Linked DNA regions of Homo sapiens. The protein of the gene in region 1 interacts with the protein of each later gene in a pairwise test. Each region holds a gene or a part of one and is shown on either strand. Other genes may lie near its edges.

What was found. The genes of interacting proteins can lie anywhere in the genome.
Region 2: the proteins of KCTD5 (region 1) and KCTD3 come close enough for resonance energy transfer, tested with the Homo sapiens proteins (one study listed by BioGRID).
Region 3: the proteins of KCTD5 (region 1) and FAM193B interact in a two-hybrid assay, tested with the Homo sapiens proteins (one study listed by BioGRID).

What each region holds. Positions count from the first base shown.
Region 1 is NC_000016.10:2,692,481-2,699,561, reverse strand, and holds part of KCTD5 (BTB/POZ domain-containing protein KCTD5), read right to left. Parts: intron 3,628-7,081; coding exon 3,519-3,627; intron 1,657-3,518; coding exon 1,565-1,656; intron 1-1,564. UniProt on the Homo sapiens protein: Its interaction with CUL3 suggests that it may act as a substrate adapter in some E3 ligase complex. Does not affect the function of Kv channel Kv2.1/KCNB1, Kv1.2/KCNA2, Kv4.2/KCND2 and Kv3.4/KCNC4.
Region 2 is NC_000001.11:215,562,319-215,570,303, forward strand, and holds the start of KCTD3 (BTB/POZ domain-containing protein KCTD3), read left to right. Parts: upstream 1-4,985; 5' UTR 4,986-5,367; coding exon 5,368-5,450; intron 5,451-7,985. UniProt on the Homo sapiens protein: Accessory subunit of potassium/sodium hyperpolarization-activated cyclic nucleotide-gated channel 3 (HCN3) up-regulating its cell-surface expression and current density without affecting its voltage dependence and kinetics.
Region 3 is NC_000005.10:177,551,564-177,558,649, reverse strand, and holds the start of FAM193B (protein FAM193B), read left to right. Parts: upstream 1-4,086; 5' UTR 4,087-4,191; coding exon 4,192-4,401; intron 4,402-4,554; exon of another isoform or gene 4,555-5,299; coding exon of another isoform or gene 5,300-5,482; intron 5,483-6,518; exon of another isoform or gene 6,519-6,608; intron 6,609-7,086.

The DNA.
Region 1 (7,081 bases):
CCAAGAGCACCTGTGGCTCGACATGACGACACGAGAGCGTCCACGTCTGCTCCGCACGCAGCAACCGTGCAGCCCTGAATTCATCGGTCGGGAAAGGCTCTGGCAAGCAGGGCCCTGAGAGCCAGTGCCAGACGAAGCTCGCTCCCAGCTACCAGAAAAAGGCTCTTGAACTTGCGCGGCAGCCTGGACTTGGGCCTCCCGAAGGCTGAGCTGCTTCCTAAAACTCCATCCACCTCCTAATCCCCCACCTGCCTGGCACGCTTGCTGTGCCCCTCCAGGCAGCTGTGGTCCTGGGAGTGATGGTGAGCCACCAGGGCCGCCCGCCTGCATGGAGCTGCTCCCCAGTGGGCGGGGTGGCCCCACATCCTGGACAGTCACTACGGAGGACTCAGGCTGCAGACGGGGCTGGACGGAAACGCAGCAGTGAGAAGGGGTTCAGAGGTCCTGGGTCCCTGACCTTAAGGTGGTGACTCATGCCAGGGATGCCTGAGTGACAAAGGCACACAGTGGCCTCGAGGTCACATGCCCGAGTTGCTTTATTCTGCAAGACAGTGAGATGCTACTGTGTCACAGCAAGGCTGGACCGCAGACTCTCCCACCTGCACCATTTCCTGCCCACCTGCGTCATACAGGTAGGTAGACTGAGGCAGGGAGTGCCCACACAGCCCGGTCACACAACAGGGAAAAAAGCAGACTGGACAAGGTGACCCGGGGCGCGGGACGCAGCTCCTGCCCCACAGACAAGGAGCCCCTCCAGATCCCTCAGTGGCACCAAGGGAGCTCCAGCAGGAGGGGGAACTGGGCAAGTCGCTAGGTGGCCAGCGGCCCTGAGCGGCCAGGCTAGGAGCGTCTGCACAGGGCCCAGGGCTCTACGTGGACCGAGACTTCTGATGGCAGCCGCGGCCACAGTGCGGCACACACCCCACTCCTGGTGCCTTCTCAAGGGAGCTGAGCTTGGGTGGGGGGGGCGGGCTCAGCTCTCAGGGACGGGACTGATGCCCAAGGCCCAGCAGTGGCCCCTCCACAGGAGGTACTGGGCAGAGCCCACCAACAACCTGGGCTCCCCTGGCTGCAGAAGGGCCGTGCCAGCTGTGAGAGGTGTGTCTGTGGCGAGCCGCCCCTCTTCCCAATAAAACCAAGGTCCTTCTGGCGCCTGCGCAGACCCACACGACCCATCTGCTGTCTCCCTCCAGCCATGCTGGCTGCAGGCCCTTGGCACCCTCTGCTCCCTACCAGATGCCATCCACCTCAGGGTCTCCCCGACCGGCCCTCATGGGGCCCTCCTTCCCTACACACGTCTCCCGTGCCCAACTTCCTCAGAGCCATCCTTTGGGGGCTCCCAGAGTCTGGGCCGGGCAGGATGAATGGATCCTTCAAGGGACCCTGGGGAGAGCCGGGTAGACGGAGCTGGCAGGCACTGGGGCAGTGACAGAGGACAAGGGTCTCAGGGTAGGAGAGCCCCAGACCGCAGGACTTATTTGGGAGGCAGCCGGTCGGGGGAGTAAAGGGGAGCCCTTCCTTCACACCAGCCATACAAGCTTCCAGCCTCAGTCATTTGTCTCACCTGCGATGTTTTGCTGTCTCGTTCTCTAATTTTGTCCTTTACAAGTTTTATTAATGAGGTGATATTGTAAAATTCTGCTTCCTCCAACACTCCTGGAATAAGGAAAAATAAATTGTCTTTACCAGACCAAACTAAACCAAAGAATCCACGCTTTACACCCACCCCTGCCCTTGCCCCTGCCCCTGCAATGAGGGCCCATGGCTCGGCCCAGCGGGAGCTGCTCAGGCCCCGACCTAACAGGCTTCCTGCAGACGTGTCAGCCCAGCAGGGCTCCTGGGATAATGGGCGGAGGGGCCGTGGTGAGAGGGCCGATGTGTGGACTGAACACCTCCAGCTCAGGTCACCCCAGGTAACCTTGAGTGACCTCCAGTGACCCGCCAGGTATGGAGCCGCTGCTTACATGCAGCTCAGCGTATGTCTACGCCGAGGCCATGGTATGCTGGGGGTTGGATCTGGCATTTTCCCTCCAAGCCTGGAGGCCGACGCTTCCTGCTGGGAACCTGCTCATGGCCACGCCACTGGGTGGGGTGCTGTGTGGGGCTCAGGCCTGCGGCCTTGTGCATATGTCTCAGTCACCTGGCACCTCAGTTGACCCCATTCAAAGGGAAGACTGTGGCTGGCTGAGAGGGTCACTTCCAGCTCTTCCCAAAGACTGCCATCCGTAATGTGCCGCACTTAGGGACTGCAAACCTCCCTTAAGAGCCTTAAGAGCAGATTCCACAGGTCCTGCCTCAGGGCTTCCTCATGGGTGGTCTTCATTCCTCCAGGACCCCAGAGGAACCCACATATGGCACATGGCAGCTCAGGACAACACCCAGCCACCTACATGGGACAGGGCCACGCAGGATAGAGACAAGGAGACGAGGGCCTCAGAGACACAGGCTTCCCGGCCCCGCATGGGTCCCGCACAGCCCCCTTCTCTAGCACCCAGGGCGTGAGTGGCTGCATCGGGGCGGGATAGAGGCAGACCGGTGAGCCTGGGCGGCAGGGCCTTGGTCTGTGTCTAGCGCCCGTTTCTGAGCCAATCCCACTAGGGGCAGAATGAGATAAAGCGAAGCCTCGACTCGAGCGGCTCCACGACAACACAAGCGGCTGCCCAAGCGACCAGAGAGAGTACATGTGAAAGACATTCCCTGCCAAAGAGACAGGAGTGGGGATCATGGCTCACAGCCTCAGAGCAGGGGCAGGGCTGGGCCACAGCCCCCGTCACTCCACGCCCCGCGTGAACTCGGAGGAGGCAGGCAGATGCCGAGGCCCAGAGGCCCAGAACAGAAACGGAGTCAGACGCTGCCCAGTGCAGACCGATGCGCAGACACGGACCCGGGGGAGCAGGGCCACGCCCGCACGCAGGTGCCCAGAAACCCTCAGCCTTCACGGCGAGGCCTCGAGCTGTTCTGAGCCAAGCCAGCACCGCAGCACACAGGCAGGCCAGCCTGGGCCCAACGCGTGTGGGCGCCGTCCCTGCACCACGATCACTCAGAATGGAACACGGCAGCTGGCAGCAGCAGGCACAGTCCAGGTGATGGCACAGAGACATTCACCACCCTTGGGCTGTCCTTGAGGGAGAGCAGGCCAGGGAACCAGGCCCTGAAGCACGCCGTGGGCATCACCGGGCATGTGCCTCACACACCCGCTCAGACCACCTCAGTCACAGCAGGGAGGAACCCCTCACACCCCTTGTGTCGCCAGCCGGAGCCTGGACAGAGGGAGCCCTCCAAGGAGCTGCAGCCAGGGAGGACCCCACACCCACAGGGTCCCCAGGCCTCCCTGTCCGGCAGCTGCGCCGCTGCCCGTGGCCTCAGCACCAGAACGTCGGCCCCAGCTTCAGAGTACAGGGCCTGCTCCTCCCTGGGGCCCCAGGCTGCAGGCATCTGTGTCTTAAGTGGAGCCCTTGGCACCTTTGTCGGGCCCTTGCCCCCAAAGCTAAGGCACCTGTGCCCAAAACTCGGCTTACCTTCCTCCGCGAGGTCTTTGTTAATCACCAGCTTGCCGTGTCTCAGGTAGTTCAGCACAGGCCCAAAGTAGGTGGGGTCTCTGTCGATTAAATAGGCGCCTGTTTCATCCTAAAGAGAGCAGAGCACGGTGAGTCCTCCGTGAGAAGCCGAAGGTTCCTGCAGGTCCACCAAGGCCCGGCCACCTCAGGAGGCTTCAGAGGCACCAGGTTACCCAGGCCTCTCCCCAGCACACCTGAGCCTGCGGCATCTCAGGAAACCCCTGACGGTGTGGCCACGTCCTGCCGCCTACAGCCTAACCCTGACCAGCCACCACCCCAGGTCTAAGTGAGTTTAAGTCTCTCCGTACGGAGGCAGCCTGGCTCTGCGTACTCCAAGGTGAGCCCACTGTGCCCTGGACCTCTGTCCTCACAACTGCAAGACCTCTAGGAAAACACACACGAAAACCTCACCCAGAGATGCCCTCGCGGGCAGGGCAGGGGCCTAGGGCTCAGCCTCAGAAGGACACCTCTGATGGCCACCAGCCTGGGCCTGCGCTCCTCGTGCCCGGGTCCTCCGCAGCCTACATGCAGGAACCGGGGGTCAGGGTGACAGGGGCTTCCTGCCAGGGGTGGAGAGGGCACCTTTCAGCAGGGGCGGCTGCCCAACAGGCCGGGAGCCAGCAGCGAGGGAGGCCACAGTGACCGGCACTCAACAGCATCCGGGGCTTTCCCCAAGATCATCACTCACCTCACAGAGCCCTCGCCCCGGCTCAGCGCTCACGGAGGCCGAGATGTTTACAAAACAGACCCCTCGGAAGGTGTCCTCACGCACCTGGGTGGAGGGACCCCTGAGAGGCACTGCCCCTGCTGCTACCACGGCCACTTCAATGTGGGCAGATGCCCTCTGAGGCCCGGGGTGCCCCACACATCACACCTTGCAGCCCCTTCCACAAAGCACAAGAGCCCCAGTGGCCCGGCCGTGAACACAGGACGGGGGCTCAGACGCCCCAGGCAGCCCCCATGGGGGAGACGGAAGAGGCAGTTTCTGTCTTGTCGGCTACACATCTGATGGGGGGACTGCGAAGCTGGCACAGCCTGTCTTCTACACAGACTCAGACCTTCCGTGTGGCTCTGCTGGGGCAGCTCCTGCCTCCCCCCACATGCCTGCAAGGGTCCTGCTCCCACCTGCGAGCCACTCCCACAGGGGCTGGTGCCTGCGGGTGCCCTGGAGGCCGGGGAGCTGAGGCCTCCGTTCAGAAACACCGGCAGCCTCCCCGGCGAGGCCCAGGGCCAAGCGCTGGAGAAGCAACCCCACACCCCATTCGGAGCAGGAGCAGCCCCCTCACCAGATGGTGGCTCCTGTGGGGCCATGGGCAGGCGCTGGCCACGGGAATGCCAGGCTCGCAGATATGGGGAGGCCGAAGGTGTCTCCACCACAAAGCACGGGGCCACGCTAGGACCCTATTTTCATCCATGGACAAATTCTGCCATTTGGGTGCTAAGACCTAGTGGTCTCAAGAGATTTTCCCAAAGTCCACCACCGCAAACCTGCAACAACCTGCTCTTTTTAGATCACAGGGACTGAGTTTTGTGGCTGAGATAAAATCAATTAGGGCTCCGGGCATGGGGGCGCTGGACCCGGAGCCTCGGCGGCCCCCCTACTCCTTAGGGTGACCCCAGCTCCACACAGACCTGACCCTATCCTCCTTCCCCACCCTCCCCCGGAACACTCCAGCCAGAGCTGCCCACCCCACAGGCCCTGCCTCCTGGGCTTGGCCCTGCCTTTCCCCAGCCCTCCAGACTCCACAGCTCTCAAGCAAGGGCCGGGGCCACAGGGCCAGCTCCCGGGAAGAGGACGCTGGGCGGTCCTGCGCAACTGCTAAAAAATGGACACCATTTCCCACAAAGGGGCCCAAGTCTGGCAAGGCGGCCAGTGCTGCCACCCGAGTCCAGGGTTCCTCCCTGCCCCACCCCCATACAGAGAGAATGCTGGCCGCGTGACGTCCGCACACCGCTCAGCTCAGGAATTATTCACGGCTCACTGCTACCTCGACAGACCGCTGGCAGGAGGTCAGGAAAGATCAGATAGGGCGGAGGCTCGCCTCTGCCCAGGACAACCCCAGAGAACCCCTTTGTCAGCCATGGAGGCCTCCAGGCCTGGCCTCAGTGGTCAGACTGCAGGCTCACAGCCAGGCCACCCCAAGCCTCAGTTTCTTTACGAGCAAAAGGTGGGGGAGACCAGCTCGTGTAGCTCGGGGCCGCCATGAGTGCCAGGGCACCCAACCTGTGGCAGGACCTGGGCACTGAGCCGTGACCTCTAGGCCAAGACAACCCACCATGTGCTTCTCAGGCCCTGGGCCGGTGCAAGAGGAGAAGGAAGCGTGCTGGGCGCCCCCAGACACACGAGGCAACCCCAGCCCTGCAACTGGAAGGATGAAGGCAGGAGGGAAGGAGGGCAGGGTGGGGACGGCCATCGGCGGAAACTGCACAGCAGGACAGAGGAACACAGACAGGTCCAAGGAGCCGGCAGGGCACTGAGCGTGCTGGCACTGGGCTCGGCCTCAAGACGGGCAGGCAGGGGTAGGCCGCTGCCGTGTCTTGGCCACTCCTACCACTGGGCGGGGCTGGCTTTTCCATTAAACACCCCCTTTAGGAGGCAGCTTTTGTGGCTGATGCTTTGAAGGAACTCCTGACCTCAGTCTGGCCACAGCTGGCCCAGTGCGGTGATGCCAGCAGCAGGCCAACTGGTGCAGCTGCTGCCATCACGTGATACCTGCCGCTGCAGGGAGGGAACAGGGAGGAGGCGAACAGACCCCACTCCCCACACCATAGCCCACTGCCCTCAGCATGGCAGGAGAGCAGCATGGTTGGGTGGAGAGGGGCCCCGATGCAGAGCTGGGGCTGTGCTTCGGGGGCCTGGGGTGGGTAGTGAGAGTGGCACCAGCGGTGAGGACCCAGCCAGTGGCACAGCCATCACACCCACCCCACTGAAGATGTCAGGTTCCCGGGCCTCGGGAGGAGGATCTGCGTGGGGCTGCCTGGGGCTGCAGCCCTGGGGTTCGCCCCACCCAAACTATGGCTGCAGACCCGGGCTTCCCGCTCCACGGAGCAGGCAGGCCCACAACTGCAGCTGCCCAAACCACAGCCTCAGGCATCCCTGCACTCTTGGGGGCCCAGAAAGGCCCCTCTGCCGGGCCCTTGCAGGCTCAGAAGTGCCTGCTCTCACTGCCTGGCTTACTCCTATTGTTGGTGCCTGCTCCGATCTTGGAGCAAAGTTGGGGCCGAGCCCAGGCGCCATGTATGGCAGCAGGAGGCAGATAGATTCCTGGGAAGAAGGGGGTAGGTCCCCGGTAAGGCCCCACCTTCAGGCCAGGGAGGGCATGAAGGCTGGGGCCGGGCTGCCAGTCCCGGGGACCAAAGTGGGGACTTGTGGTGCGTTTTCCGGGCCTGCCCATGAACCAATTAGTATGCACTTCCTTCCCTCTGGGTCCATAAGAGCCCTGGGCTCAGCCAGAGCAGGGCAGAGGACAAAGAGGACAGAGACAATTGGCAAGTGGAAGACCAGCTGCAGAGGGAAGCTACCC
Region 2 (7,985 bases), on another chromosome or scaffold:
AATCCCATCTCTACTAAAAATACAAAAGTTAGCCAGGCATGGTGGCAGGCACCTGTAATCCCAGCTACTCGGGAGGCTGAGGCAGGAGAATTTCTTGAACCCAGGGGACAGAGGTTGTAGTGAGCCGAGATCATACCACTGCACTCCAGCCTGGGCAACAGAGTGAGACGCTGTCTCAAAATAATAATAATAATAATAATAATATCTAAATATAGAGTGGGTTAGAAGATAACAATAATAGCAGCAACAACGAACACTGGGCAAATTACTGATCCTCCTTGTGGCTCAGTTTCTTTATCTTTACTTGATGCCTAGATATCTTCCTCATTTACTCAAAGACGTTACTCTAATAATTATCTTCTGCCTCTCTTGAATGGTCAGATTTTTGCTACCTACTGATTGCTTTTCATCAACGTGGTTATTTTTTTTTAAAACATCTTTACAAAACATTCTCTTGGCCTTACTTCCCTAGCTTGCTACTGTCTGTTTCTTAGCTCTTCTTTATAGCAAAACCCCACCAATTATGCTTTTTCTCCCACTTCTGCACTAGAACTGCCCTTACTTCCACCACACTATTTTTCTTCATGTCACTAAATCCAAAGTCAATTCTTAGTTCTTATCTTACTTGTCCTGTGATCTCATAGGACCCCATGCTCCCTTGGTTTTCCTCCCATCTGGCTGAAACTCCTTTCTAGTTTCCTTCACTGGAACTCCTCCCCAGTCTCTTAATATTGGATAGTCAAGGGCTCCATTCTGATTTCTATTTTTGTCTCATTCTACACTCACCTCCTTATGATTTTAGGCAGTCTCATGGCTCTAACAGCCATCTATATACTACTCATTCCCAAAGTTTTATTTCAGTAAAAATAAGAGAATTTTTAGCTTAGTTCTCTTTCTGAAACTTCTAGGTCCTTTATACAACAGCTTACTCAACATCTTACTTGGATATCTAATACAACGCTACTTTAAGTGTGGTTACTACTTTTAGTGTACTACTTTTAGTATAACCACACTTCAAGTAAATGCTACTTTAAGTGTGCTACTTAAGTGATAATAAACACTACTTTAAGTGTGGCCACTTAAGTGTGGTTCATGAATTGATGCCCATCCACAAACTGTGAATAGTCTGCAATTAAATAAGCACAAAAATGAGACTAAGAGGTTGGAAACTTTTTTTTTTTTTTCTGAGATGGACTCTTGCCTTGTCACCCAGGCTGGAGTGCAGTGCTGCAATCCCAGCTCACTGCAACCTCCATCTCCCAGGCTCAAGTGATTCTCCTGCCTCAGCCTCCCGAGTACTTGGGATTACAGGAGCGTGCCATCACGCCTGGCTAATTTTTGTGTTTTTAGTAGAGACAAGGTTTCACCATGTGGCTAGGCTGGTCTCGAACTCCTGACCTCAGGTGATCCGCACACTTTGGCATCCCAAGTGCTGGGATTATAGGTGTGAGCCACAGTGCCCGCCCGAGCTATATATATATAAAGGGGAGTTTACCCATCACAGAACTAATGGAATATACATATATATATTCCATATATATAATATATATTTATAAATACATATATTATAAAACATATATATATTCCATTAGTTCTGTCCCTCTAGAGAGTCCTGACTAAATCACCCCATAAATTGGAAATTGAACTAGTTCTTACCTGAGATAGTTTGACAAGGACTGGTCGAGTAGACATCACAAATTCAATATAGTCACTAAAGAAGGTAATATTATTTAAATAATGTTTTATTTACTTTGTATTGCCTAAATATTAAAATAACATAAACTTTAAAAAGCTGTCATGGGGACAACCTTGAATGTATCTACTCTATTTATTTACACATTCATACATACATACAGGTAGTACATGAAAGAAAACTCACTGTAAACAGTTAAACAATATGAAAGACCATAGGGGTAAAAGGTTTTGTCCATTCACCACTGCTACCTTCTCCTCACTGATTCTAATGATCTGTCTAGAGGTTATGTTTCTTCGTAGTTTAATATGTATTTTTATATAGAAATATAAGTGGATATACACATGATTTTAGTTTTTCCATTATTTAAATGAATGAGATTGTACTCATAATGTATTATTCTGTAATCTGATTATTTTCCCCACTAAATCATATACTTGGAGATCATTTCTGGTCAGTTCACATGAATTTGCCCCCAAAATAGTAATAGCTTCCAACATAATTTTAAAAATTATTCCCTTGTTGTTGAATATTCCATGTTTTTGCTATTATAACACTACTACCATGAATATGCACTTACTTCTTTGCATGTACCTTTGCCAATTGAGCAAAATGTGTATAGGATATATTTTTAGAAGAAAAGTGCTGGGTCTAGGGTATTTACATTTAAAATGCTGATATTCTTGAGGTGCCCTCCAGAAACTCTGTACCCATTCATAATTTAATCAGCAATGCATGAGTATGATCATTTCACACTCTCACTGTCCTTGAATTTTATCAAACCTCTCTTAATTTTTGCTAATCTCATGAGTAAAAATACATTTTTTGTTTTATTCATTTATTTATGTATTTATGTATTTATTTTGAGATGGAGTCTCGTTCTGTCGTCCCAGCTGGAGTGCAGTGGTGCGATCTCAGCTCACTGCAACCTCTGCCTCCCAGATTCAAGCGATTCTCCTGCCTCAGCCTCCCCAGTAGCTGGGACTACAGGCGCGCACCACCACGCCTGGCTAATTTTTGTATTTTTAGCAGAGACGGGGTTTCACCATATTGGCCAGGCTGGTCGCGAACCCCTGACCTCGTGATCCACCCACTTCGGCCTCCCGAAGTGCTGAGATTACAGGTGTGAGCCACTACACCCAGCTTTCTGTTGTTTTAATAAGCATTTTAGTGTTTTTATCAATTGGCTGTTGATATTCTTTCCATATTTTTCATTACTTGTTTTCTCAATTTATTTGTAGAATAATATATACATATATGATCAGATATTATATATTTTCAATCATTTGATATATGTTGCAAATATCTTTTCTCATTCTGCTATTTGTTTTTGTTAATGGTGTTCCAATTTATTCTTAAAAATTAAGTCACACCCTAACTTTAAGTTTTATGAGCAAGAAATGCCTCAGATATCTCTATATTGTTCTGGACATATCAAGAAGTCATGACCATTTGTCTTATAAAATACTGAGAACTTTTCCTTCTCTTGAAGAGATGTTCTCCTAATTTTTAAGTACAGTATAATAAAATGAACACGGTTTCATTTATTTCAGGAAAAATAAGAAGCCTTTCACAAATATATATATTTTTAAATTTATAAGGCCTTATTCTAACTCCAACTTGCCTCTTGGATTCAAAGGCTGTTAGCAACTATTCTTTCATATTCTTCCAAGGTTTGGACCTAAGGAAAATTAAATGGCCCTTTTACCACTTAAATCTTCGCTGCAAATTTTAAAGCAAAGTTTCAGATCCTGATAGAACCAGATATTATGTGTTAGGGCAAAGGCAGTTAACATTGTTTAAAGCAAGCTTGTCCAACCTGCAGCCCCATGGGTCGCATGCAGCCCAGGAAAGCTTTGAATGTGGCCCAACACAAATTCATAAACTTTCTTTCTTTCTTTCTTTCTTTTTTTCAGCTCATCAGTTATCGTTAGTGTTAGTGTATTTTATGTGTGGCCAAAGACAATTCATCTTCCAATGTGGCCCAGGAAAGCCAAAAGATTGGACACCCTGGTTTAGATTCCTAGTTGCTGCTGCTTTAATCTGAACTGTTACTCATCTTCCCTGTCTAAAGTGAAGATAATGAGGTACAATGCAGTGGTAAGGATGGTGAACAGTGGCCTTGAATTCAAGCTGCTTGCCTTGAAATTCCTGCCATCCCACTTGCTACCTATGTAATTTTGAGCAAGTTTTTTTGATCATTTTCATTCCCAAATTTCCTTTTTTAAAAATAATTATAACATTAGTTGTGACGAAGAAAGATGACAAAATATCTAAACCACCGGGTATATGATAAACACAAATTAGCTATTATTAAGCTTATCATCAACTGGGAGAAATAATACTTATCTTACATCCATATGTACTATTAACATCTTTCAAGTCGAATCTAGATAGAGCATATCACAACATTAGTATGCTTGCCAGAGGCTATTTTTTATTTTTTTGGTAAAAATTATGACAATGACAATAAAAACTTAACATCAGATACATTATCAGTTTGAATTATTATGATACAACTATGACAAAACAATTCATGTTAAGAATTTAGTACCACAAACTAATGACCTCTGAAACATAACGCACTATCTTTGTTAGTCTTTGTTAGCAGGGCATCAAGTATTATAGTATTCCGATTTAAAAAATATTTTAATAGCCACTAAGGTTTTGGGTTTGAATAGATACCGTTTAAAGCAAAAACAAATAAATAAACAAGCGCATAAAATTGTGTGTTTTCTGCGTGTGTCTAACATTAGTTGAGTGCTTACTATATTCCAGAAATAGGTTGCTGGGCATTACACAGTCTAGGGGTTTTTGTCCTTTGGTTTCCTTCCTGCTTAACAAACAAAAGCAAAAAACAAAACAAAAAAACTGCTTGGGAGATTGGGGATTAAATTGAAGAGGGTAAAGTAAGCAGTTTTCTGGGGTAAACGCTGTAAGGTTTTAAAATCTCCAAATGTTCCCTGCATTTGCACTGTCTACATTTAGGCATCAACTTTTACTACCTCTAGGATTAGTTTTTCCTTTCCCAATCCATGTTGACAAAGTGGGTCATAAAGATCCGTAGATCGTTTGCCCAGATCTGCCCTCAATCTGCGAATCAGCTTCCTCGTTTTAGAAAATCTGAAATGTAAAAGGGAAAGGGGCTGGGATCGCGTGGGGAGGAGGAACGAAATGGAATCCCGCGTGGGCAGGCGGCTGGCCAGGAGCACATTCCCCTAGCCTCCCTACGCGCCAGCCCCGCGGCGTTGGGAAGCTCCTCCCTGACCTTTCCTTCCTCCTCCTCCTCCTCATTCTAGGCGGCAGTGGCGGGCGAAGCGTGAGCGCTGCGGTATTTTGTCCCGAACGGTGACCCCTCCTCCCAGGCAGGCTGCGGCGGCGTCGGTGGCAGCGGAGCACGGAGAAGAGGCCCGGGCGGCCCGGCGGCCTGGAGGCCGCGAAAGGTGGAGGCCGGGCCGCCCTTGTGCACCGCAGGATTGACCCGGGAAGGGGCAGAAGCTAGCGAGCCCCGCCCGGCCGCCGGGAAGGTGGGGGAAGCCCCGTGCACCCCCCGCCCTCCGGCCGCCGCCGCCCCGCTGGCCCTGCAGCCGTCGCCGCTGCCTCGGGCTACAGCCCCGGGCTCGGCGGTCCCGGCTGGGGAAGGAGGGCGGCGAGCGCGTCCGGAGCCGCCGGAGATGGCGGGAGGGCACTGCGGCAGCTTCCCCGCGGCGGCGGCCGGCAGCGGCGAGATCGTCCAACTGAACGTAGGGGGGACCAGGTGAGTCGGCGGGTAGCGGGCTTGCAGCGGGGATGCCTTGGCGGCCTCCTCCTTTGGTGTCGACGGGGACCGAGAGTCGCAGGAACGAGGGCGAGCGTGGGAGGCCAAGCCTGGAGGGGAACGTGGGGGCCTCCAGGCGGCAAGAACGTCGGGCGGATTTTGGAGCTGGTGAAGCATCTGCTCTGGGAAGGGAGAGGCAGAAGGGACGCTTGGAATTACCGAGGACCAGGCCCATGTGGCAGAGTAGCTGCTGTCCTAGAATGCCAACCTTTGCCCCTCCCAACAGGCAAGGAGAACCATTACACAGCCTTCCTTACCTCATCTCAGATTAGAGTGTATTTGAGGACTTTATTTAGTAGAAACCTGGCTTTGTGGTTTGGATGTTGGAGATGAACTTGCTTTCCTTTCTCTTTGGTCAACGAGGTGTCGGTTTTCTTAGGGAAGAGTGCGGTGTTCTTTTCCGCGCCTAATTAGGGGATTTGTAATTTGAAAGATTTCTGTGATGGGAGTGCAGTAGGTTTGCAGTACCTAGTTATTTATTTTCAGAATTTCTTGGTGCATGGGCTTGAAGGATCTGTTCAACTTCTAGGACAGTGTGTCCAGAAACTGCAGTTTGAACATTTGCTTTTAGGAAGCTCTGGATATTGGCACGGTGTGACGCCCTTGGAGTAAACAGACTGAATGCTCTTCTCTGTCTGTTCTCTTTCTGGCCTTCCGCCCCCCCCCCCCCCCGCCCCTTCTGTGCCTGTTATTAAGTTTGTTGGGGGAAAAAATCGTAGTTTTTGTGGATTTCCTATAACTTATGAGTCACTCCTCTCAGAAAAGGGAGTTTGCCAGCTGTTTGAAAGAAGGATTAGTTGAGTTTTAGGCTTGGTAAGGAGATAAACAAGGAAATGCTCTGGAATACAGTTAATTTTTCTGTGCTTGAGAATATGATTTTCAACCAGCATTTTAAAAGTATTTTAATGTCTTAGAACCATAGTGATAAAAAATGTCTACTGTAGTGCTTTAATCCTAAACATTTGATAGCTTTCTAGAATTTAACACAGAAAACCATGGTACTTCGTTCTTAGGGTTTTTCCTCTTCCCCCAAATCAAAACTTAGATAATTTACAACGTTATTGCAGTTGTATAGAAACCAGTCTTATGGAGATTTATGTCTCCTAATGTAAGAAATGGAGTTTTTCCTAAAATCACGTTAAAATATTGGAAGTTTGGTAACTTGTGGAATACCCCTAAAGAGGAGGCCTGCAATGTGTGTTGATTATACTGAAGAGTAGCAGTATAATCATTTACAATCCCTACACTGGTTTCTACTTGCTATTGATAGTTAATGTATTTCTTTTCTTTAATTTTCTTTTTTTTTTTTTTTGAGACGGAGTCTTGCTCTGTCGCCTGGCTGGAGTGCAGTGGCGCGATCTCGGCTCACTGCAGCCTCTGCCTCCCAGTTTCAAGCGATTCTCCTGCCTCAGCATCCCGAGTAGCTGGGTCACAGGCGCGCGCCACCACGCCCGGGTAATTTTTGCATTTTTAGTAGAGACGAGGTTTAACTACGTTGACCAGGATGGTCTTGATCTCCTGACCTCGTGATGCTCCCGCCTCGGCTTCCCAAAGTGCTGGAATTACAGGCGTGAGCCACCGCGCCTGGCCGATAGTTAATATATTTCTATTCAGACATTCACAAGGACATACAGTATTATTGTAAAAATTAAGCAGTATTGTTATTTACTATGTGGATGGCTTAATACTGAGTGAACTCTTATTAGAGACTGCAGAATTCATTTAAAAGTTTTAACTCATAAGGCAGTTATCTTGGCACTGTAACTTTTTTTTTTTTTTTTTTTTGAGACAGAGTCTCGCTCTGTCATCCAGGCTGGAGTGCAGTGGTGCGATCTCGGCTCACTGCAAGCTCCGCCTCCCAGGTTCGCGCCATTCTCCTGTCTCAGCCTGGCACTGTGACATTTTATCTTGTGTTTACATTATTTATGAAACTTGAGCTTATCAGGTTCTAATTTTTTCTAAGTGATATTAGCAAAGATACAAAATAGTACATATATTACTGGTTTGAACAGTTTACAAGACATGAAATTGTTAGTGGGAATGGAAACATTAAAAAACTTCAGAAAATTGTTAAGATAAAATGGCTTATAAAATAAGTAGTAATGGTATGGCCCGTAGAAAACAACATCCGACTCCATATTCTAAGAATATTTTCTAGATTTGCTTTGAATCCTACACTCGTGCAGCATTTTAGAGCTAGATGAGATCTAGAAGTCACCTGTATCTTGTACAAAACACAGTGTAACATAGTCACTTAAGCCACTGTAAGAGAAAAATCCTGATATGATTGCCACTGAAGTTCAGGAACTGCTGTGGCATAGAATTGAAGTTCTGAAGTGATAGAGTAAAACTCAAAAGGAGAGTTTGTTGGGAGCAGAGAAGCATATGCTATCGGTAAGGTCTTTTTTTTTTTTTCCCTCAGGAGAATAGACATGAAAATGGATATACTCAAAGGAATTATAGAAATGACTAATT
Region 3 (7,086 bases), on another chromosome or scaffold:
CGCCCAGCCTGTACTGGGCTTTAAATATATTTTCTTCCAGTTCTCAGAGCAGCATAATAAGCTAATTTAATGCATGAGAAATGTTTGTCATGACTGCTCATCAGCACTGAATGGATACAAAATGTGATACTTCCATACAATGGAATACTACTCTGCAGTATAAAGGAATGAGCTATCTAAACACGCTACAATATGGATGAATCAAAATAATTATGCTGCAGGAAAGATGCCTGGCAAAGCAGAATACATACTGTATGAAAATGCAAAATATTCTGTAGAAACAGAAGGCAGATCAGTGCTGCCTGGGGAGAGAGGAAGAAGTAGGAGGGAAGGATTATCCTCTGGGGGAACCATACAGTGGAATTCTCCCCAATGGCGCGTGAGTAAAAGTGATGTATATTCATTTCTGGGTACAGCTCATAGAAATGTCCCATGCAACCCTCACTTTTTTGCCTTTCCCATCCTCTGGATGAATGAAGAGGACTTTGAGAGCCGAGGTGAAGACAGAGCCACAAGATCCAAGGAGACTGGATCCCTGAGTGACTGCAAAGTCCCCTTCAACAGGCATTGGCCTGCGACACGAGGTAGACGAGATCTAAGGTGTTAAAACTCTTGCTATGTGAGGTTGGTTTGTTACAGCAGCTAACCAGCCCTAATACATAGTCCAAAGTAATCATCCTGCTAGAAGAGAGTCAGGTGTGCCCCTCAGAGTAAGGTTCCACACGGACCTCTGGCTGGTTCCTGCAAATTGGACTCAGCACTGAGAGTAGATAGGTCAGCCAGCCTCAGGGAGGAGACAGTCCAAATTGCTGAGCCAGTTTTCTCATGCAGCCATTGAATAAGTTCTTAAATAGCTGGGAAGAGACAGTCTGACAGCCACAGAAGGGGCCATACTGCCCATCGGACTTTTAAGAGGTTCTTTTGATGAACGTTCATCTGGGACACAAATAGCCTTATGTTCTGAAGCCATTCTGGACAATCTTTCCACATCTGTCATCCTCAGAACTTCCTGTCACTAAGCCTGCAGTCTTTTTTTCCCTCAAGTCCCTCAACAACAGAGTAAATCATGATCCAATGGCCAGGAATTGATGTGTCTTTATTTCAGGGTCTTTGCGTGGATTTCCCTTTTCTGTGCCCTTGGGCCCTGTCTGAGGAAGACTAGAACACTCTAGCAATTTGCTTCTGGCTGGAGCCAGCACACCATGCAGAGCCATCTGCAAACTGGACTTTGGATTTTTCTTCCTTAGTCAACTCATCATTAAACCGTTCATGAAACCACTGATCCAGGTTGAAGGATGGAATGGAGAAGAGGGTGGCAGCAGAGGAATGTAAGTAACTTGCTCTGGCAACCTACTTGTGCTTTAGGACTTGCATGGACCCAACCCACACATGTCACTTCCTCTCGATGACAGGGTGTTGCTGAGCACCCCTGATTTTATGGCTGAGTAGATCAGATAACACTCAGTTCAGGTCACGTGGTCACCTAGTAGGCCAGGATCAGGCATCCAATTTCACCAGACCCCTGAAGCAAGCCAGGAGCTATTTCTAAAATGGAATATAACTATTTGCTGAAGGAAAGCATAAGTTTGCTCCAAAATCCAATGCTTGAGTATTAAGACCAAAGCCAGAACTATTTACTCTGCAGCCTGGTCCACTAAGAAAAGTTTCTCTTTTTGTATGATCCTGCCTTAAAGTTGGCAGCTTTCAAGTGACCCAGTAACTGGTCAAAATAACGTACCTAAGTACAGGCCGGGCGCGGTGGCTCATGCCTGTAATCCCAACACTTTGGGAGGCTGAGGCCGGAGGTTCAGGAGGTCAGGAGTTCGAGACAAGCCTGACCAACATGGTGAAACCCTGTCTCTACTAAAAATACAAAAATTAGCTGAGCATGGTGGTGCGCGCCTGTAACCCCAGCTACTCCGGAGGCCAGCAGGAGAATCACTCAAACCCGGGAGGCAGAGGTTGCAGTGAGCAGAGATCCCGCTACTGCACTCCAGCCTGGGTGGCAGAGATTCCATCTCAAAATAATAATAATAATAATAATAATAATAATAATAATAATAATAATAATAATGTATCGAAATACATCTATGTTACCTACCAAGTCTAAAGAAGCCCCAGCCCAAGTATTGCACCTCTTCCCTAGTAGGGAGTGTGATCTACAGCAGCTTTCCCTTCACTTTGTACGAAATATCTCAACATATCCCAGACTCCTAGATGGCTTACTGCGAGGCCCCTATATATTTGTGAGATTTATTATCCATCCTCTGGCACACACATCATGCCTTACCAAATCATCCAGGATATCTGCTATTCCCTTTTCTTAAGGTCCATCAAGATGATGTCATCAGTGCCTCAGCAGATTAGCCTGATATCCATTAGAATGGAGATTTAGTAAAAAAAATCCCTGTAAACTGGCAGGGTGCAGTGGCTCCGCCTGTAATCCTAGCACTTTGGGAGGCCGAGGCAGGTGCATCACCTGAGGTCAAGAATTCGAGACCAGCCTGGGCAATACGGGGAAACCCCGTCTCTACTAAAAATACAAAAAAATTAGGGGGCGTGGTAGCATGTGCCTCTAATCCCAGCTAATCTGGAGGCTGAGGCACGAGAATCCCTTGAACCCAGGAGGCGGAGGTTGCAGTGAGCTGAAATTGCGCCACTGCACTCCAGCCTGGGAGATAGAGTGAGACTCTGTCATTAAAAAAAAAAAAAAAAAAAATCCCTGTAAACTAAGTGGCTGGGTCCAGAGTGTGACATACCCTGAAGCAAGACAGTGAGGGTTTACCGCTGCCCCTGCCAGATCAATGCAAGGGATTCCTGGTGTTTGGTACAGAAGAATAACCATTGACCAGACCTCTTGTTGCCTATTAGAGACCAACAACTGTGCTGATCTGTCCCAAGAAGGACCGCATCTGGAAGAATGCCTGCAGTTGGGGTTCTTACCAGAATAAGTAAGTTTATCATAATGCTCTGTTGTTCTTCAAGGCCGTCTCTCTTCTGTTCTGGGCAAACTGAAGAGGTAATGGTGATGTGATGGGACTCACCCTGCGTCTTTCAAATCTTTGATAGTGGCATTAATCCCTGGGTGAGATAAGGTACTATTTTTGATTTATTTTCTTGGTAGTTAAGGAGAGCTCCAGGGCCTTCCATGTAGCTCTTCCTTTCAAAATAGCCCTTGCCCCATGGGTTAGGAAGCCAGTGTCAGGATTCCGCCCCTGTTGATACCAATAGCAACTCTGCATATAACCACAATTTCAGAGTACATAGCCCAGGCATGAGACAGACTTCACTCAAAACTTTTTTTTTTTAATCTGTGCCATGTACATGTATTATACAGTATATTCACAAAAAGAGGGGGGAAATTCCATTTTTAACAATTAAATACATAATTATTAAGTTTTAAAAATTCTCCTTTGTGTACCACTCCAAAATCCTCTCCTGCACATACTATTTTTTTGGAAACACCTAGTCGTCTCATCGTTATCACACCGGTTGTAACTATGTACCTACGTGTCTACCTTCCCCATCAGACTCGGGAACAAGGAGTCGGGTTTGAGTCCCACTGTCCCAAGCACAGAACGCTGGACTCCCAGTAGACCATATGTTGCAAATAAAGACCTTCGTCCCTTTCAACTCAGGCCGTCCACGAGCCCAGGAGTTCCAACAAAATGATGTACAGCAACCTTTTCCAGGCCTTTATGTTGCCTCAATATTTCTCACCTGCAAAATGGGAATGATCCGTACCTGCCTCGCTGTGCTGTCGGAAGGAGTCAGACGATGGGTGTGAAAGTATTGTAACACTATAGAAATTAATTCACTCATCCATTTAACAGGCAATTATTAAGTGCTAGGGTGGTGCAGCGCGATTACCACCGCATTACACGCGTTCCTCCAGCAGGTTGCATCCTTCCCGTCCCGCGTAGGGGGGGAAGGGCGTCTCCCCACCAAGTTTTTCTCCCAGCGAACTCCGGGTGGTGACCTTATTCAAAATGGCGCAGGCGGCCTCGGGGGCTAGTGCGGCGGCGCGGACTCCGCGTGCCCTCTGACCTGTTGGCAGCAGGCGGAGGGGGGGAACCGGGCGCCGCCATATTGGCTGTTGTCCTGTGAGGGGAGCGGTAGCGGCGGCGGCGGCGGCGGCGGCGGCGGCGGCGGCGGCGGCGTGTGGAGCGAGGGAGCGGCGCGAGCGGCGGCATGACGCGGAGGCGGAGCAGGCCGAGCGGCGGTGCGGGCAGGCGCGAGCGGGCTCGGGCCGCGGGGCCGCAGAAGCCCCAGGCGCCCGAGCCCCCGCCGCCGCCAAGCCTGGAGGCGGGAGCGGGTGCAGGCCCTCCGGAGGCGCCGGCGGAGCCCGACCACGACGGCCCCAGGGAGGATGACGAACCCAACCTGGTGCCCGGCCCGCAGGTAGGAGCGAGCGGGGAGACTTCGGCGGCTCGGGCGCTTTCACCTTCCCCGAGCGGGAGCGGGAGTGGGGCGGGGTTGGGGATGGGCCATCCTGCCGCGGCTGGGGTAGCAGCCTTCCCCCGGGTCCGGCGCCGAAGCTTTCTCCCCCGGGGCGGGAATGGAGGCTGGACCCCTCTCCCCAAAGCCGAGGCTCGGTCCGCGCTCCTGCGACTAGGCTGAAGCTGCTCCCCTCTCCCCGCCGCCTCCGGGCGTTCCGGCCGTACACCCACACTGGGACTGGGACTGGGACTGGGCTGTGATCCCGAGGCCGCAGCTCCGCTCTCGGCCCGCCACCTCCCCCGGGCCCACCTGCTCCCTCAGCCACAGGCCATCTCGGGGCTCTGGGACTGGACGACTGCAGCCTCTTCCCTCTGCCCCCGGGAACGGCTCCACTCCGTCCCCTGCAGCGCCTGCAGCCGCGGCCCCCTCAGCAGCTGTGTCTCCTGGCGCCTCCTCGCCATACCCAGCAGAGCAGTTGGAGCAGACAGCCAGGCTGCCCGGAGGAGTTTTTGGTGGGGTTTCTGCACTGAGGTGGAAACCCAGCAGAACCTGCCCTTCTTCCCTCCCCTGCTCCGCAAGGCAGCCCACCCCGACCTTGAGATCCCAGGTTTGGAGAATCCTGCTGAGAGCGAACAGTAGGAGGATTCCCCAAAGCTTCCAGCTTGCCACCTGGAAGAAGGTCACTTTCTTTTGAGCAAAGGAGATAACGGGAGGTACCCTGCCAAAGTTCACTGAGAGGCGGGGGTGACATGGGCCACGGTTGCTCTGGGAGGGTTGTGGCACTCGGGGCTGGGTGGCTCTCCCTAAGCTTGCTCTGACAAAAGAGTTTTGAGTTGGTCTTTTGGCTGAGCCTGCCCAGGAAGGCAGGCTCCTGCAGGAGTCTTGGAGGGTCGGATGCGGCGCCGGATGAGGATGAGGCGTGGCGGAAGATGCGTTTGGCTCTGCAGACACTGCATCGGGCAGCAGGGGACTCTGGGAGGCTGGTGCAGCCAGAAGGCATGGCTCTTGACAGCCTTCTAGTAGAATCTCTGGAATTGTGCATGTGAGTGGGGTTGCCGTTTGGGGTACCTTCCCACAAAGCCTCCCCTGACCTCCCCAGTTGCGTCAGGTGCCCTCTCTGTGCCCACAGCCCTCTGTGCCTCCCTCTGGTAGCACTCCCCTTTCTGTGATGAAACATTGTGTTGATATGTCTGTTGCCTGCCCTGGACTGTGAACTCCACAGGGACACAGGCTATGCCATCTTTCTCTGATCTTCCACGCCTCGCCCAGGGCCTTGCTAACACAGAATAAAAATAACTAGGTGAATGAGAGAGAAAATGAATCGGTCCAGAACCCGTGCTTATTGTAACCCAGTTTTCATGCTGATTTCCTTTGTGTCTCAGATCACAATAAGGTTTTTAATTAATGAAAATGTCAGCACTTACTGAGTGTCAGAAGCTCCACCTTCATCCGCATCCCCATCTCCTATCCTAGGCTGACACTTCCGTAGGAGACTCCCCAGGTTGGACCCCCAACCCCTACTGGGTCTAGCTTCCAACCCCAAAGCTGCTTCCCCCACCAGCCTACTCTGGGACCCCCGTGGGAGTGCTGTTATCCAAAAAGGGAGAGTGGGAGAAGGGAGAGCTGGAAAGCTGTTGTCTTCTCTTCTTCCCATTCAGCAGACCATAGAATACTTCAGGGTCTCTGCCACATAGAGATGCCAAAAAGCTTGGATGATGGCTCAACCATTCAGTTTTTATTAAGGACACAACTTTGCCAAGAGCTCTAAGCTTCATCAATTTCTTTGACATCTAGGTTCCTACCATGTTCTTACCTACTCCACTACTTGACCTGCTGATTCATTTATTTGTGCCAGGCACTTTACATACCTTACTTCTAATCTTCCCACCTCACCTGTATTTCTCCGCAGCGTTTAGCACAAATATGATGAATTGACCATTGATGTGATTATTTGTTTTTATTTGTGAACTCTGCGAGTTCAGGAGCCATGTCAGTCACCATTGTACCCCTGTGCCTGGTGGTTAACAAATATTGATCAACAAACTGGAGGATATAATTATCATTACTCCATTTTTCAGATGAAGAAACAGAAACTCAGAGCAACTAAACATTTGCCCAAATGACTCCAACTGTAGGTGTCAGACAAAAGAAAAGAAAAGGACTTTTAGGTACTTTGGGGGATTTTCAACAAGGCATTTTTTTTTAAACTATAGCCCCAAAGAAGGGAAACAAACTGGTAAATTCGGTTCTAGTTATGCCCCACTTTGACCGGGGGTGGGGTCTGGAAGCAGGCTTTTGTGCCCTGGTGCAAAGCACCTAGTGTAAGGGTAGGGTTCAGTCATTGCTCTGCCTACAAGCGTGTTTTTGGTGAGGAACTCTGGCTCCCATTGCCACTCATAACCCTGTCTTACATCTACAGAGTGGATAAGGAAGATGAAACTCAGTGTCATATACCAAACTGAATCCAAAGGTGGCAAATAAGACCACTTCCAGTCCACAGGCTTGTTGTAATGCCCCAGCTCACATATTGTTTTGTTTCTGTTTTTATTTTCATTTGAGCCAATATTTTAAAGATCAAAAGGTTTCCCACACATTTGGATTTGGGGCTCTTTTTTAAACTAAAGATATGGTGATGCTGGGTCCACT